Linked DNA regions of Homo sapiens. The protein of the gene in region 1 interacts with the protein of each later gene in a pairwise test. Each region holds a gene or a part of one and is shown in the gene's direction. Other genes may lie near its edges.

Evidence for each region. The genes of interacting proteins can lie anywhere in the genome.
Region 2: the proteins of HSD17B13 (region 1) and APOA2 interact in binary tests that used the Homo sapiens proteins (3 or more experiments, as listed by UniProt).
Region 3: the proteins of HSD17B13 (region 1) and PNLIPRP1 interact in binary tests that used the Homo sapiens proteins (3 or more experiments, as listed by UniProt).

What each region holds. Positions count from the first base shown.
Region 1 is NC_000004.12:87,303,012-87,306,220, reverse strand, and holds the end of HSD17B13 (17-beta-hydroxysteroid dehydrogenase 13 isoform A precursor), read left to right. Parts: intron 1-912; coding exon 913-1,003; 3' UTR 1,004-2,427; downstream 2,428-3,209. UniProt on the Homo sapiens protein: Plays a pivotal role in hepatic lipid metabolism. In vitro, it catalyzes the oxidation of a variety of lipid substrates, including 17beta-estradiol, retinol, retinal, and leukotriene B4.
Region 2 is NC_000001.11:161,221,476-161,227,450, reverse strand, and holds APOA2 (apolipoprotein A-II preproprotein), read left to right. Parts: upstream 1-3,822; 5' UTR 3,823-3,856; intron 3,857-4,025; 5' UTR 4,026-4,049; coding exon 4,050-4,101; intron 4,102-4,400; coding exon 4,401-4,533; intron 4,534-4,928; coding exon 4,929-5,046; 3' UTR 5,047-5,159; downstream 5,160-5,975. Other genes in the region: TOMM40L (mitochondrial import receptor subunit TOM40B), read right to left, coding at 101-193, 496-563, 847-961. UniProt on the Homo sapiens protein: May stabilize HDL (high density lipoprotein) structure by its association with lipids, and affect the HDL metabolism.
Region 3 is NC_000010.11:116,600,959-116,608,274, forward strand, and holds part of PNLIPRP1 (inactive pancreatic lipase-related protein 1 precursor), read left to right. Parts: intron 1-113; coding exon 114-243; intron 244-3,071; coding exon 3,072-3,180; intron 3,181-4,183; exon of another isoform or gene 4,184-4,427; coding exon 4,428-4,595; exon of another isoform or gene 4,596-5,945; intron 5,946-7,316. UniProt on the Homo sapiens protein: May function as inhibitor of dietary triglyceride digestion. Lacks detectable lipase activity towards triglycerides, diglycerides, phosphatidylcholine, galactolipids or cholesterol esters (in vitro).

The sequences.
Region 1 (3,209 bases):
GAAGAGTGGTATGTATCAGTGCTTTATTTATATTTGCATCCAATTTGAACTATGAATATTACAAAGGTGCACACATAGGTTCAGACAGATTGATTTAAAATGACCAAAGATGACCTGTCGTAAGCAACCTGGGTATCTTAAGATGCACTCCTTGGAGAGGGAATGTTCCTAAAAACATTTTCAGAGGGACGAACTGTATGAAATTCAGTAAAACATAAATCATGAGGAAAACTGATTACTCTCTTTTTGACATGAAATGAGAGTTTTAATGCATGGTTACGATTATTAACGTACTCCGCTGCAAGACGTTAATAAAGTTACTGTTTTGCAGGCTAGAATGTCTTGATGCTGTAATCAGAACACACTTTTTCCCCTTTCTTCCAGCTTCAAATGCAGATTCATAATTGGGCTGACTTCTAATAACTGCAATGTTTTCTGCCTTGGGCTTGCAGCAGAAGCCTGACAAAATAGTGTTTGTTTAGGCAATAATTTATTTATTTATTTATTGAGATGGAGTTTCATTCTTGTCGCCCAGGCTGGAGTGCAATGGCGTGATCTCGGCTCACTGCAACCTCTGTGTTCAGGCAATAATTTAGACTTTACCTTACTTGTGATTACTATAGCAATTACTATAGCCACAAGGCATAATTTTACTGTCTCATTTCAATTTTATGAATTTGAATGTTTTTACACTTTTCCTAATGAAGTCCACTATGAAGTTATGTCAAAAAAAAAAAAGAAAAAGAAAGATGCACACGTAAAAGAGAGGTGGTTGCAAGAGAAGAAAAGAACGGAGGAAAGTTAAACGCAAACCAGATAACTCTCAGCGTATTCTAAATGACCAAAAACAGAACTCTGTTGTCAAAGATTTTAAATGGAAAATTTTTCAATTTTTTTTTCTTTTTTGTACAGGTTTCTTCCTGAACGCGCCTCAGCGATTTTAAATCGTATGCAGAATATTCAATTTGAAGCAGTGGTTGGCCACAAAATCAAAATGAAATGAATAAATAAGCTCCAGCCAGAGATGTATGCATGATAATGATATGAATAGTTTCGAATCAATGCTGCAAAGCTTTATTTCACATTTTTTCAGTCCTGATAATATTAAAAACATTGGTTTGGCACTAGCAGCAGTCAAACGAACAAGATTAATTACCTGTCTTCCTGTTTCTCAAGAATATTTACGTAGTTTTTCATAGGTCTGTTTTTCCTTTCATGCCTCTTAAAAACTTCTGTGCTTACATAAACATACTTAAAAGGTTTTCTTTAAGATATTTTATTTTTCCATTTAAAGGTGGACAAAAGCTACCTCCCTAAAAGTAAATACAAAGAGAACTTATTTACACAGGGAAGGTTTAAGACTGTTCAAGTAGCATTCCAATCTGTAGCCATGCCACAGAATATCAACAAGAACACAGAATGAGTGCACAGCTAAGAGATCAAGTTTCAGCAGGCAGCTTTATCTCAACCTGGACATATTTTAAGATTCAGCATTTGAAAGATTTCCCTAGCCTCTTCCTTTTTCATTAGCCCAAAACGGTGCAACTCTATTCTGGACTTTATTACTTGATTCTGTCTTCTGTATAACTCTGAAGTCCACCAAAAGTGGACCCTCTATATTTCCTCCCTTTTTATAGTCTTATAAGATACATTATGAAAGGTGACCGACTCTATTTTAAATCTCAGAATTTTAAGTTCTAGCCCCATGATAACCTTTTTCTTTGTAATTTATGCTTTCATATATCCTTGGTCCCAGAGATGTTTAGACAATTTTAGGCTCAAAAATTAAAGCTAACACAGGAAAAGGAACTGTACTGGCTATTACATAAGAAACAATGGACCCAAGAGAAGAAAAGGAAGAAAGAAAGGTTTTTTGGTTTTTGTTTTGTTTTGTTTTGTTTTTTGTTTTTTTGAGATGGAGTCTCACTCTTTCGCCCAGGCTGGAGTGCAGTGGTATGATCTCAGCTCACTGCAAGCTCCACCTCCCGGGTTCACGCCATTCTCCTGCCTCAGCCTCCTGAGTAGCTGGGACTACAGGCGCCCGCCACCACACCCGGCTAATTTTTTGTATTTTTTGTAGAGACGGGGTTTCACCATGTTAGCCAAGATGGTCTCGATCTCCTGACCTCGTGATCCACCTGCCTCGGCCTCCCAAAGTGCTGGGATTACGGGTGTGAGCCACCGTGCCCAGCCTTTTTTTTTTTAATAGAAAAAATAATCCGACTCCCACTACATCAAGACTAATCTTGTTTTGTGTGTTTTTCACATGTATTATAGAATGCTTTTGCATGGACTATCCTCTTGTTTTTATTAAAAACAAATGATTTTTTTAAAAGTCACAAAAACAATTCACTAAAAATAAATATGTCATTGTGCTTTAAAAAAATAACCTCTTGTAGTTATAAAATAAAACGTTTGACTTCTAAACTCTGTCTCTATGAGTGTCCTTCAAGAACCAAGGATGTGGATGGTAACAGCTACATCTGGCAGTTATTAAATGAATCCAGGGGTTTTCTCAACTCTGGTTTCTTTGACAGCAGGAGTGCTGGTTTATCAACTGGAACTTACTGACCCCTTTCTATGTGTGAGATTAAGCACAGTGCTATTGTTTCTAATTTTTTTTCTTAGTCACCGGCAATAATTTTTTTCATAACATTCTTTTAATTTCTTGCCTTATAATCAAGAAATTTATGAGTAAAATGTATTATTTTTAAAGTATGGTTACAAAAATTCAAAAGAGAAACATGGAAAGTAAAAAATAGAAGCTTACCCCCAGCAATCCCATTTCCCAGAGGTCACACTGTCAATGCACAATCTTCCAGTCTTTTACTGATGCATGTTCATGACAAATACATTATATTCTTATTGCATGGGTCGTATCAGTAGTTTCATACCATACATTATGTTCTGTAACTTGCTCTTTTAGCTTACCAACTTATCACAAACAGCTGTTTGTTTCAGTATAGAGAATTCAACTTTTTTTCATGAGTACACAGTACTAAAATGGTACTCTAACCATTCCCTTTTGATAGGCACTTAGGATGTTTCCAGTATTTCTTAGTTCATCTATTTAAATATTAATTTAACAAATACTGAGTGCCCTCAAAGTTCTAGGCCCAGGGAAACATATATGAATAAGGCAAACTCCTTGTCTTAACAGAGCTCACATTCTAGTAGGTGGGACAAACAATAAAGGGACTGCAAATATG
Region 2 (5,975 bases), on another chromosome or scaffold:
ACGGCCCATTCCTCCCCATAACACACACAATTCCTCTTCCTCCAGACCTGGGTCCCAGATTGGTTTTTAGGGAGATGACCCAGGTGTGTGGAGCCCTCACCTCAGTGGGACTGAGCTGCCAATCCCCTGCATAGGCCGCATGGAGGTGATATCCCGGCAAGCCCAGGGCACTCATGTGTATAGTGTGCGCCACCTGAGGAAAAGAGGATTCAGTGGAGAAAAGCGCATTCCTGCTCCACTTCAATCCCTCATCCCACCCTTAGTCTTTTCCCCATCCAGAGGGCCTCTCAAGAATCCTAAATATTCCAACATATACAGAGAAGGTCATCGGATTAAAAGCAACAAGTCCCACAGGCACGGAGGTAAAGAGAACCCCACATCCTCCCTCATTTGTCCCACATAGACTGGCTAGGGCTGGAGTACAAAGGAAAGGAGAAGATGATCCAGGGACAGGAAAGGGGGAATAGTAAGGAGGGGCCAGAGAAGTGGGAGCACCTGGAAATGGCTGCTCAGAACCTTGTTGACAACGAGCTTCACTCCCTCCATCTGTGCTGGGAATACATCTGAAGGGGGTAGGGGAAGGGAAGGAATAAGCACAGACAAAGAACCCCTACCCCAAAAGATAGTCTCCCCTTTCAATCCCATAGGGAACACTTTGGAGGAATTAACCTCCTTTCAAGTCCTGCAATGAAATGCTCCACTTCATTTGGGCACCTGATCCTCCCTGAGGCTGCATGACCCAGCTATGATCTCCCCTTTCCTGCTCCCATCGCCGGACATCCGGCATTCAAGACCCTCCACTCCTCTGCCCCTTCATCCTGAGACACCCAAGTGCCAAGTTCTCACCTTTGCATAGACGGTGCAGCTCATCGAAGCTCCCAGGGTTGGGCAGGGGTTCCTCTCGGCGGGGGCTCCGGCGGGGCAAAGTCCCCATTGGTGCCAGGCCCAATGTGTTCCCCATTTTAGTCCAGAGGACTGGGAAGAGCCGAGGTTAGCCTGTGAAAGGACGCTATTGCCCCTTTACCCCCCAACGGGCCCCACCCCCCATTATCCGGCTCCCCAGCCTCAGAAACTTCCACATGGTCCGACGCTACACCTGGAACAGGAAGAGTAGGGAAGGAGAGCACTCATGGAGAGACAACCCTAGGCACACTCCCGCCCCATCTTTGATCTCTCACCCCCACTTGTCACCCTTGTCCTCTCTCCCTTTCTCTGATCCTAGCCCCCACCACAGACTTCACCTAGCTCCCTAGCCTCTCTATTCTTCATTCCCAGGCCCCAAGACCAGGCCCGCAATGGTGCAGTATCCCTTACCATCTCAGACCATCATGCTGCCCCTTTCCCCCCGGCACACCCCGGTCATCTTGATGGGGGCAGCCATCTTGAGTGATGGCAGAACTGCAGCTTCACGCTGCATTCTTAGCGTGGCCGTAAGCGCCATCTTTGAATCTGGCAAAGAAAGCTGTCAAAGACCCAACCCAACCCTGATTGGGCCCCGCCCAATCAATGAAAAAAAAAAAAAAAAAAAAAAGCCTCGCTATTTACCATGGGCCAATGGGAAGGGAGGAAGAAAATGAGTGGCAGGTCTGACGGCCCAAGAGCTTCAACCCTGGAGCTGCAGAGGCGGGCAGGACTTGATTGGTGGCCCCTTAGACTTAAGTGGAAGGCTTTAGATCACTAGGCCTCTCCAAGGTCGGAAAAAAACTTGTGAGCGTACAAGACACTAGAGGGAGCATCTTGTAGCTTGGGCCACTGAAGCTCCTTCCACCCATGTAGTTTCATCCATGAGAAAAGTGGAACTACAGCTTGTAGACTGGCATAGTGTGAAGGGTGGCAGAAAGAACGATTATGAAGACTTCTTTGGAACCCTGGTTCATTTCTATCGCTCCCTTCTCTCCAAAGAACCCATGGGAAATCCTCCTCACAGCCCTCCACAGCACACCTCCAAATGAGTACTACTCATTAAGCGCAGCACTCCCTAGAACAGGGACCCACCCTTCTCTTCTGGAGGTCTACATCTCTCGAAGTCCCCGCTCTTGACCACTTGGTGGAATGGAAACGGGTGTGAGAGTTTGGCGCAGAGGAGTAAGTTCTAGCAGAACTATTCGCTGAAACAGCTGCTTTCTGTATTTAACCCTTCCTTCCCTGAGTCCCAAGGCAGAGTTGGCAAATAAAATCTAGGAATATGGAGCCTGGCCCCCAAAGGCACTCCATCCCAGGACCAGGGACAAGCCAAAGGGCTGACCTCAAGCACTAAGCGCTCCACAGGGGAATAATTGAAAATGGAGTAAGAGTTCTTGGTCTTGGAGGGTGAAGGGTGGGAGGAGGGAGAAGATCAGGAAAAATAACTAATGGATATTAGGCTTAATACCTGGGTGATGAAATAATCTGTACAACAAATCCCCATGACACAAGTTTACGTGTGTAACAAACTTGCATATATAGGCCAGGGGCGGTGGCTGATGCCTGTAATCCTAGCACTTTGGGAGGCCGAGGCGGGCAGATCACCTGAGGTCGGGAGTTCAAGACCAGCCTGACCAACATGGGGAAACCCCGTCTCTACTAAAAGTACAAAATTACCCGGGCGTGGTGGCGCATGTCTGTAATCCCAGCTACTTGGGATGCTGAGGCAGGAGAATCCTTGAACCCGGGAGGTGGAGGTTGCAGTGAGCCGAGATCATGCCATTACGCTCCAGCCTGAGCAACAAGAGCAAAACTCCGTCTCAGGAAAACAAACAAAAAAACCTGCACATATACTTCTGAATTTAAAACAAAAGTTAAAAAACAAAGATTTCTTGGTCTCTGGTCACTACCTCCCTCATCAGCTTTGCGCCTCCACTGTCACCCTCAGGAATGTTCCACATACTCAGCGAGTATGCTTGGGGGGCAAAAGGGTGAAAGATACAAAAGCTTCTGATATCTATTTAACTGATTTCACCCAAATGCTTTGAACCTGGGAATGTACCTCTCCCCCTCCCCCACCCCCAACAGGAGTGAGACAAGGGCCAGGGCTATTGCCCCTGCTGACTCAATATTGGCTAATCACTGCCTAGAACTGATAAGGTGATCAAATGACCAGGTGCCTTCAACCTTTACCCTGGTAGAAGCCTCTTATTCACCTCTTTTCCTGCCAGAGCCCTCCATTGGGAGGGGACGGGCGGAAGCTGTTTTCTGAATTTGTTTTACTGGGGGTAGGGTATGTTCAGTGATCAGCATCCAGGTCATTCTGGGCTCTCCTGTTTTCTCCCCGTCTCATTACACATTAACTCAAAAACGGACAAGATCATTTACACTTGCCCTCTTACCCGACCCTCATTCCCCTAACCCCCATAGCCCTCAACCCTGTCCCTGATTTCAATTCCTTTCTCCTTTCTTCTGCTCCCCAATATCTCTCTGCCAAGTTGCAGTAAAGTGGGATAAGGTTGAGAGATGAGATCTACCCATAATGGAATAAAGACACCATGAGCTTTCCATGGTATGATGGGTTGATGGTATTCCATGGGTTGATATGTCAGAGCTTTCCAGAGAAATAACTTGGAATCCTGCTTCCTGTTGCACTCAAGTCCAAGGACCTCAGATCTCAAAAGAATGAACCTCAAATATACCTGAAGTGTACCCCCTTAGCCTCCACTAAGAGCTGTACCCCCTGCCTCTCACCCCATCACCATGAGTCTTCCATGTGCTTGTCCTCTCCTCCCCCATTTCTCCAACTTGTTTATCCTCACATAATCCCTGCCCCACTGGGCCCATCCATAGTCCCTGTCACCTGACAGGGGGTGGGTAAACAGACAGGTATATAGCCCCTTCCTCTCCAGCCAGGGCAGGCACAGACACCAAGGACAGAGACGCTGGCTAGGTAAGATAAGGAGGCAAGATGTGTGAGCAGCATCCAAAGAGGCCTGGGCTTCAGTTGTGGAGAGGGAGAGAGCCAGGTTGGAATGGGCAGCAGGTAGGGAGATCCCTGGGGAGGAGCTGAAGCCCATTTGGCTTCAGTGTCCCCCAAACCCCCACCACCCTCTTCCTAGGCCGCCCTCCCCACTGTTACCAACATGAAGCTGCTCGCAGCAACTGTGCTACTCCTCACCATCTGCAGCCTTGAAGGTGGGTGTGATATGGAGAGGGGGCCAAAAGGGAGAATGTGCTGGTGGTTATAGCTACCTATCTGCCTGTGCTCTTATATCCAGGTCTGGCAACCAAAGGGCTCAAAAGGAAGATCATTCCCTCTCTAAAGCCCAGAAAGCCCATCCAAAGATCTGGCTGGATACCTTTTTGGGGAGGGGGCAGAGAGCTGGGGTGGGTACTGGCAGAGGTATGGCAGGAGGCCAGGATTCACTGCTGTGGACCCAGCTGAAAAGAGTGTGTGTGTGTGTGTGTGTGTGTGTGTGTGTGTGTGTGGGCAGGAGCTTTGGTTCGGAGACAGGCAAAGGAGCCATGTGTGGAGAGCCTGGTTTCTCAGTACTTCCAGACCGTGACTGACTATGGCAAGGACCTGATGGAGAAGGTCAAGAGCCCAGAGCTTCAGGCCGAGGCCAAGTAAGTCTCAGGGCAAGGGGTTCAGGGGCTGTGGAACTGTGGAGAGAAAGAAGGGAAGATGAGAGGTCCCACAGAAGTCTGAACCCAGGGGTGGGGATTAGGGCAGATTAGGCTTAAATTGCAGAGAAAAAGTATTTCATCACCCAAAGATCCCACACGTCTCTTAGATAGAGAGGAACAGCAAGAACTGGGCCTTGAATTTCAGTCTCTAGAGTCTGTCCCTCTACCTAGCAAAGGTCTTGACTCTATTCCTACCTAGGGGCTTTGCCATGCGATGGACCAGGCACTAGAGTTTGGGGACCTGAGTCAGTCTGCTCTGACCTCCCACCACCACCAAGGCCCCTGCCAGTGCCTAGGGTCCCTCAGATTAAACTCTAATCCCCTCACCTATCCAGGTCTTACTTTGAAAAGTCAAAGGAGCAGCTGACACCCCTGATCAAGAAGGCTGGAACGGAACTGGTTAACTTCTTGAGCTATTTCGTGGAACTTGGAACACAGCCTGCCACCCAGTGAAGTGTCCAGACCATTGTCTTCCAACCCCAGCTGGCCTCTAGAACACCCACTGGCCAGTCCTAGAGCTCCTGTCCCTACCCACTCTTTGCTACAATAAATGCTGAATGAATCCAGCTCTGAGCCTGGTATGTTTGGGGGACTGGGAAAAGTAGGGGAGTAAGGGAGGAGAAGAGGAAGGAAAAGGAAAAATCTGCTTCTAGAAGGAGAGAGGTTTGAGTGTGGAGGGGTGAAGAAAGGATTGAAGACACAACTGATGAAAATGACAGGATGAGGGTGCCATGATTCTCCAAACCCAGAGTCTCCTACAGCCTGGGCACGACTCTGCAGGTGAACACTAAAGAGGCTTTGCATTGCACAAGGAACTAGGAGAGGAAGGAAGGATTCACAAACTGAATCCCTCGATTTCTGGAGGTCATAGAAAATGAGGGTACCCTGGTGGGGTGCAGTGGCTCACACCTGTAATCCCTGCACTTTGGGAGGCCAAGGTAGGTGGATCACTTGAGATCAGGAGTTCCAGACCAGCCTAGCCAACATGGTAAAACCCCGTCTCTACTAAAAATACAAAAATTAGCCAGGTGTTGTGGCACGTGCCTGTAATCCCAGCTACTCGGGAGACTGAGGCATGAGAATCTTTTGAACCGGGGAGGCGGAGGTTGCAGTGAGCTGACATCGTGCCACTGCACTCCAGCCTAGGTGACAGAGCAAGACTCCGTCTCAAAAAAAAAAAAAAAAAAAAAAAAAAAAGAAAGTAAAGAAAAAAAGAAAATGAGGGTACCCCTCATAATTTCCTGTTAGTCATTCTATGAAGAAAAGAAAGCTTCCCAAGGTGTCACCCGTGGCCCTCCTTTCCCTTCTGAGCCAGGGGAACACTGTGTTTCCCCCTTTCCCACAATAAAAGACTTGAGTTTGCTCCTCTCCCTAGAAGTGCT
Region 3 (7,316 bases), on another chromosome or scaffold:
TGTCACAAAGGAGAACGCTTAGGCTGTAGGAAAATTGAGTGTCTGCCCTCTCAGATGTATCGATCATACAAACACAAATTCTCCTTACAGTCCCATCTATCTCTTCTCATTAGGACAAGTGCTTCCCGTGTCCAGATCAAGGATGCCCACAGATGGGTCACTATGCTGATAAATTTGCTGGCAGGACAAGTGAAGAGCAGCAGAAATTCTTCTTGAACACAGGAGAGGCTAGCAATTTCGCTCGTAAGTTGCACTTTGACTACCTGCCCATGTAAAGAAAGTATATAGTTTCTGTTACAAATGAGGGGCTTGCTTTCAACCTGAAATATTTGTGGGTACATTTTAATTATCTTAGAAATGGACACATTTACCGAAACTATTGCAGTTACAAGTAAACTGAGGATTTAGACAGAGTGTGCATTTCTTCCGTTCTATTTCTGCGGCATGAAATGAGAGCAAGCAACTAGTATAATTAATGGGATGAGGCCAGTTTGCACATCCTTGTGACCAGCTACCCTGAATTTTTACCACTCCACAGTTCATTGTTTCTTTCCTTTTTAAGGCCGCATCAGACACACCTGTTCTCTTCATTCAGCAAAGACGTAATTGGTACCAGCTCTTTGCTGGGCTATGTCCCTTAAGAAGCCCAACTCCATTCTCTGCTTTCCCCTCTGTCTGTGCATCCCTGATGCCCAGGGGCTGCCTCGCTGGTGGAGTGCAGGCAGGAATCAGGGGGAAGGATGATTTCTCTCCAAAACCTGCTGAATGGACTAAGACACAGGGTAGAGACTGGGCATGTTTGGGCCACTTTGTACCAACCTGCCCCATGACACTTCCATAGGAGGTGACCCAGTAAAGACAGAGGTTACATATTCATATAAATGTATAACACATCTTACATAGTTTTTAAAGTCAGATTTATTGAGGTATAATTTATATTTGGCAAAATGCACGCTGTTTAGCATACACTTGTATGAGTTTGGACAAATGAATAGTTGTGTAAACACCTCCAAATCAAGATACAGAACACTTCTATCACCATATATATCACTCTGTAATTTTTTTTTTTTTTTTTGAGACGGAGTCTCGCTGTGTCGCCCAGGCTGGAGTGCAGAGGCGCAATCTTGGCTCACTACAACCTCCCCCTCCCGGGTTCACGCCATTCTCCTGCCTCAGCCTCCCGAGTAGCTGGGACTACAGGCGCCCGCCACCATGCCAGGCTAATTTTTTTTTTACATTTTTAGTAGAGACGGGGTTTCACCATGTTAGCCAGGATGGTCTCGATCTCCTGACCTTGTGATCCGCCTGCCTCGGCCTCCCAAAGTGCCGGGATTACAGGCGTGAGCCACCGCACCCGGCCCACTCTGTGTATTTTTTTTGTAAGAAGACATTGATTAATCAATCCTTCCACTGATGTTGTGATGCATGAAATACTTGCCAATATTTCAACAACAAATTAAACACTCAAAAACCAGGTATTCATTCCTCAATCAACATTTATTTATGGGCCACAGACTATGCTAGACACTGAGGATGCAGGGACGAACAAGAGACTCCTCTCATGAAATTAATAATCCAGCCAAAGACAGAAACTGGGCAAGCAACTACAAGCGTGTTGGGCTTGGTGGCTGTTGCCATGACATTATGGGACAGAGAACCTGGCCCTGACCAGAAGGAGGGTCAGGGTCAAGGTCTCTGAAGACACGAAAGATGAATAGGAGTTAGGCAAGAATCATGTCTGTGTATATTAATGTACATCTGTGCACATGTGTGGGTGTATGAATGCATGTGTGAGTGTGTTTGTGTATGTACCTTTGTGTGTATGCATGTGTTTATATACGTATGTATATGAGTCTGTATGTTTATGTATATGTATGTGCATGTGTATGTATATTTGTATGTGGGTGTCTATGTATGTGCGTGGTTAAATGTGTGTAGGTTTGTGTGTGTGTGCACATACACATGCATGTTTGTGTAGATGTATGTGTGTGTGCACATGCACATGTTGTGTATATGTATTTGTGTATGTGCACGCACATGCATGTTTGTGTATATGTATTGTGTGTGCACATGCATATGTTTGTGTATATGTATTTGTGTGTGTGCACGCACATGCATATGTTTGTGTATATGTATTTGTATTTGTGTGCGTGTGCATGCAGGCCCTGGGACAGCATTTCAGGTAGAAGCCTAAGTGACAGCTGCTCGTGCACCTGCTCTGTGCTAGAGACTGCCCAGGGCCCTGGGGAGCAGAGAGGAAACACAGTCCCCGCCCTCGAGGTGCTTGCCAGGCTGCACTCCCGAGCTACCTTCCCAAATGTGGAGACAAGCCCCTATTCCCTCTCTCTTCACCTTACCTTACTGTACTGCCATTCTGGGGCAGAGCTGGCTAACAGAACTTTCTGCAATGAGGGGCATATTCTGTGTAGCCATTAGCCTCATGTGGCAACTTAACATTTGCAACACAGCGAATGAGTTTGAGAAACTAAATTTTTAATTGTATTTAATTTGGATTTAAATGTAAGCAGCCACATGTGGCTGGTGACCTCCTCCCTGGGCAATGCAGTTCTAGAGGGGGATACTGCTAAATACATACTTCTCCATAAGGCCTTGTTTGATTTGTAGATTAACAAATAGAATTTCTTATACTTTGGCTGGGTGTGGTGGCTCACGCCTGTATTCCCATCACTTTGGGAGGCGGACACGGGCGGATCACTTGAGGTCAGGAGTTGGAGACCAGCTTGACCAACATGGCGAAACTCTGTCTCTACTAAAAATACAAAAATTAGCCAGGCGTGATGGTGTGTGCCTGTAGTCCCAGCTACTAGGGAGGTTGAGGCAGAAGAATTACTTGAACCTGGGAGGCAGAGGTGGCAGTGAGCCAAGATTGCACCACTACACTCCAGCCTGGGTGACAGAGTGAGACCCCATCTCAAAAAATAATAATAATAATTTTTTAGAAAAGAATTTCTTATGCTTTGTTGCCTCAGAGTAAGAGAAGGAGACAAGTCTGGGATGTAGGCTACTTATTTTGTGTGTGAATAAATTGAACTCTTCCATCTCCTGTGCAGGCTGGAGATATGGGGTTTCCATCACACTGTCTGGAAGAACAGCCACTGGTCAGATCAAAGTTGCTTTGTTTGGAAATAAGGGAAACACTCACCAGTACAGTATCTTCAGGTAATTTCCTATTTTAACACTACGTCTCATTTGATGATATACACAGCCTTCAAACCACACACTTAATTTGAACACTTATCATCTCTTTATATGTCACTGGTTTTTAATTATAGTCATGCAACATGTAACAACATTTTAGTTGATGGACCACATACACAACAGTTGCTTTATAAGCTTGTAATACCATATTTTTACTGTACTTTTTCTATGTTTGGGTGTTTAGATACACAAATACTTACCATTGTGTTCCAGTTGTCTACAGAACTCAATACAGTAACATGTAGTACAGGTTTGTAACCTAGGAGCAATAGGCTGTACCATACAGCCTAGGTATGTAGTAGGCTGTGCCATCTACGTTTGTGTGAGTACATGCTATGATGTCCACACAATGATTAAATTACCTAAGGACACATTTCTCAGAACATATCTCCATTGTTAAGCAACGCAGGACTATATAACTTTATGTACTGATGTTAATTGCAGACTTCTGCTAATAATTTTTCTTTTCTGTTATAAACCTAGGCATTTCGTCCTTTCTCTCTCTTTTTTTTTTTTTTTTTTTTTTTTGAGAAAGAGTCTTTGCTCTGTCACCCAGGCTGGAGTGCAGTGGCACGATCTTGGCTCATTGCAACCTCCGCCTCCCGGGTTCAAGAAATTCTCGTGCCTCAGCCTCCCAAGTAGCTGAGATTACAGGCATGTGCCACCACACCTGGCTGATTTTTGTATTTTTAGTAGAGATGGGGGGCGTTTTGCCATGTTGGCCAGGCTGGTCTCGAACTTCTGACCTCAAGTGATCCACCCATCTCGGCCTCTCAAAGTGCTGGGATTACAGACGTGAGCCACCATGCCCGGCCTCTTTCTCTTAATAGATGTTTTTTTAAACATAAATCTAATATTACTTCAGATATGCTGTTTTCTGATTAGTGCAATAACACATGCTTATTGTGCCATACTATGTGGCCAATTTGTTACTGTACAAATAATTCTTCCAAAACATATAAAATGATATGCAGGAATTCTATTTTATTTTCTATTAGAAAGCTTTAAGGAAAAATTAACTTGAGTTTTAAAAACCATAGTTTGAGGTGCTAGCATATAGCTGGCTTTTCCATTTCTCCATCCTTTATTTGGAAATTAATTCGGAAAAATAATCCTGTTAATCTAGAAGAGAAAACAGCAGCCTGGCATTGTATGGTAATTAGAACTCATTTCCGTGAACAGGGATGTTTATGTTTCTCTATTTCAAGGGGGATTCTCAAACCAGGCTCAACCCATTCCTATGAGTTTGATGCAAAGCTGGATGTTGGAACAATTGAGAAAGTCAAGTTTCTTTGGAATAACAATGTGATAAATCCAACCCTCCCCAAAGTGGGTGCCACCAAGATCACTGTGCAAAAGGGAGAAGAGAAGACAGTGTATGTATCTTTGCTGGCTGGTGCCTAAAAATGTTTGCAGAGATTCATGTTATAATGAAAACCCACCCTAGAAAGTTACGTGTAGTTAAGCAAGAAAAGCCAAGAAAATTTACCCATCTGTGGCCCCTTCTCCCCAAACAAGCAACTGACAAACAGCATAAAATGTTTCTGTTGGGTGCACCTTATTGGGTGTTCTCAGCACTGCCTGTGGGAATACAGAAGATAAGGCTGCACTTTCAAGGTAAAATGAGAAAATACAAGAAAGAGAACAAGAAATCCTTTCTGAAGGGTACAAGTTTATAAGTATGGGCTAGTGAATAGCTATACTTGAAAGAGGAGAAGACCAATTACATTTCAGGATAATAAAACGGAAAATAAATCGGTTTTAGGAAAAGATCGAAAATTTTACATAGGACAAGAATGCACTAGGATTGCAATACTTGTGAGATCCTGACCTGTGGTCTCCCTGGCTTTGGGCCTGAATAAGCACAGGGCCGTGGGTAGGAAAAAGGGACGGCTGGAGGAAAGTTGGAGTGGTGACCTGAGAGGGCAGAGCGACTGTCTCTCAAACCTCAGACCCCAAGTCTGGCTAGTAGAACATGTGGCTTTGTGGGAAGGAGATCCTGGGCTCTCAGCCACCGATGTTCTTGAAGTTTGGGGTTAGGTGGAGTCACCGAGTTCAGGTCCCAGAGATTGTCACTCCCCCAGGTGGGGAGGGTGGGGTGGCAGAGTAGAATGGGGGCTGACTCCACATCTGGGTCTCCTCGAACTGGATGACTTAGTGAGGTTCTCCTTATCCCCACGAGGCAAGGAGAACAAAGAGGTTGGCCCTGCCAGGTGGTGGGTGGAACCAGGAGGCCTCATAAGCTAGAGCATAGTACAGAGGAGGCTGGGCCGGGCTGGTCGGGAGCCCTGTGCAAGCTGGAGGTGCAACCAAATCCTTTCCTCCCTGACCCCATCAGAGGATACTCAGCCTCTAAATTCAGCTCCCCAAGGCCCCATTAGCAAGCATCCCATGGCCTGGATCCTGGGACTGTGTGGTTAAAAACATGTCAGGTGGTGGCATCATTGGAATCTTAAAAATTAGAGGTGTTCCCAGGAGATGACTTGCTCACAGGTAAGGCATACAAGTCCAAATCAGCCAGGGCATTGCATCTTCCAGGTTTTCTGAGGAAAGGCTGAGGCTTTCTGAACTTTCTGCAAATGGAACAGAACATACTTAAGGCTGCACCTGAGGTCCTGTGCCCATCAGCTGTCACCTGCATTCCAGTGGCTGAGTGCAGCTCCCCTCGCTGTCTGCTCCAGAAAGACTCTTTCTTAAGAGCAGCTGGATATAAGACATCAGGTTTTCTAAACAGAGGAAAGTCAAAACAGCTTCAAATCTCTCAAACTAGTTTGGGAAGTAAAAACACTGAATTAGTTGAATTACTCAAACATTTTCCTGTTATGAAAATGGCCAGTAACATTTAATAATAATAATAATAATAATAATAATGAAGAAGCTAAAGAAAATCAAGATTTTGGTCCAAGCTCTTCTCAGAATCCCCTCATATTTTTTAGTAACCTCATTGGGGTTTCAATTCCTACTAAGGAATCTGCCGACTAGGATTCCCTCCAATGACACAGTATCCAAAGAGAAAGGCAGCCCTCCCCCTCTTTATTTCTCCGTCCCCCTCTCTTTATTAAGTACCTTTGGTAAATGTACCCTTGCAAATGACTTTATTCAGTACCTATTGTATGGCCTGGCAAACAGTAAGGGATGCAAACACTGAGCCTACACTCAAGGAGCTTACAGTTCAGCTGTTGAGAAAAATCAGACTTATGGTTCACAGGGAAGGTCAAAAGACCAAATAAAGAACTCCCAGGAGAGGCTCAGAAAGACAGTGGCCAAGGAGGAAAGCAGAGGGCCGCGGGGAGGCTGTGATGGAAGGAAGGGCAGCTCTCAGGATGAGGCAGGGAGTAGGAGGGAGGAAGGGCACAGGGGCAGGGCAACAGGTCCAAGTGCATGAGGGGCGACAGGGCCCAAGTGCAGGGAATATGATCGGAGGCCTCCGATGCCAAGTTAGGGCTTCTTGGCAGAAAAAATGAAACACAGAAGAGAAAGTGGGAAGGGGCCAAGGAACACCAGTGAGGAAATGGGGCAAAGCTTCCGAGCTCACAGGTGGTGAGGCCTGAGAGAAGTCCGTGGTTCTTGAACAACCACAAAAATAACTGCTTACATCTGCATTGTTTTTTGTTAATTGTAAGACTTTTTACATTTACCATCATGGGATGTTACGTTCTTATCATGGAATTCTCAACAGTCGTGGGAGAATGACTGAGATGGAATCTCGCTCTGTTGCCCAGGCTAGAGTACAGTGGCATGATCTCAGCTCCACTGCAACCTCCACCTCCTGGGTTCAAGAGATTCTTGTGCCTCAGCCTCCCAAGTAGCTGGGATTACAGGCATGCACCACCACGCCCGGCTAATTTTTGTATTTTTAGTAGAGACAGGGTCTCACCATGTTGGCCAGGCTGGTCTCAAACTCCCGGCCTCAAGTGATCCACCTGCCTCGACCTCCCAAAAGTGTGGGGATTACAGGCATGAGCCACCACACCAGGCCTTGCCTTGCTCTTTTGATACTGTGTCATTGGAGGGAATCCTAGTGGGCAGGTTGTTTAGTAGGAATTAATACCCCAATAAGGTTATTAAAAAATATGAGGGGATTCTGAGAAAAGCTT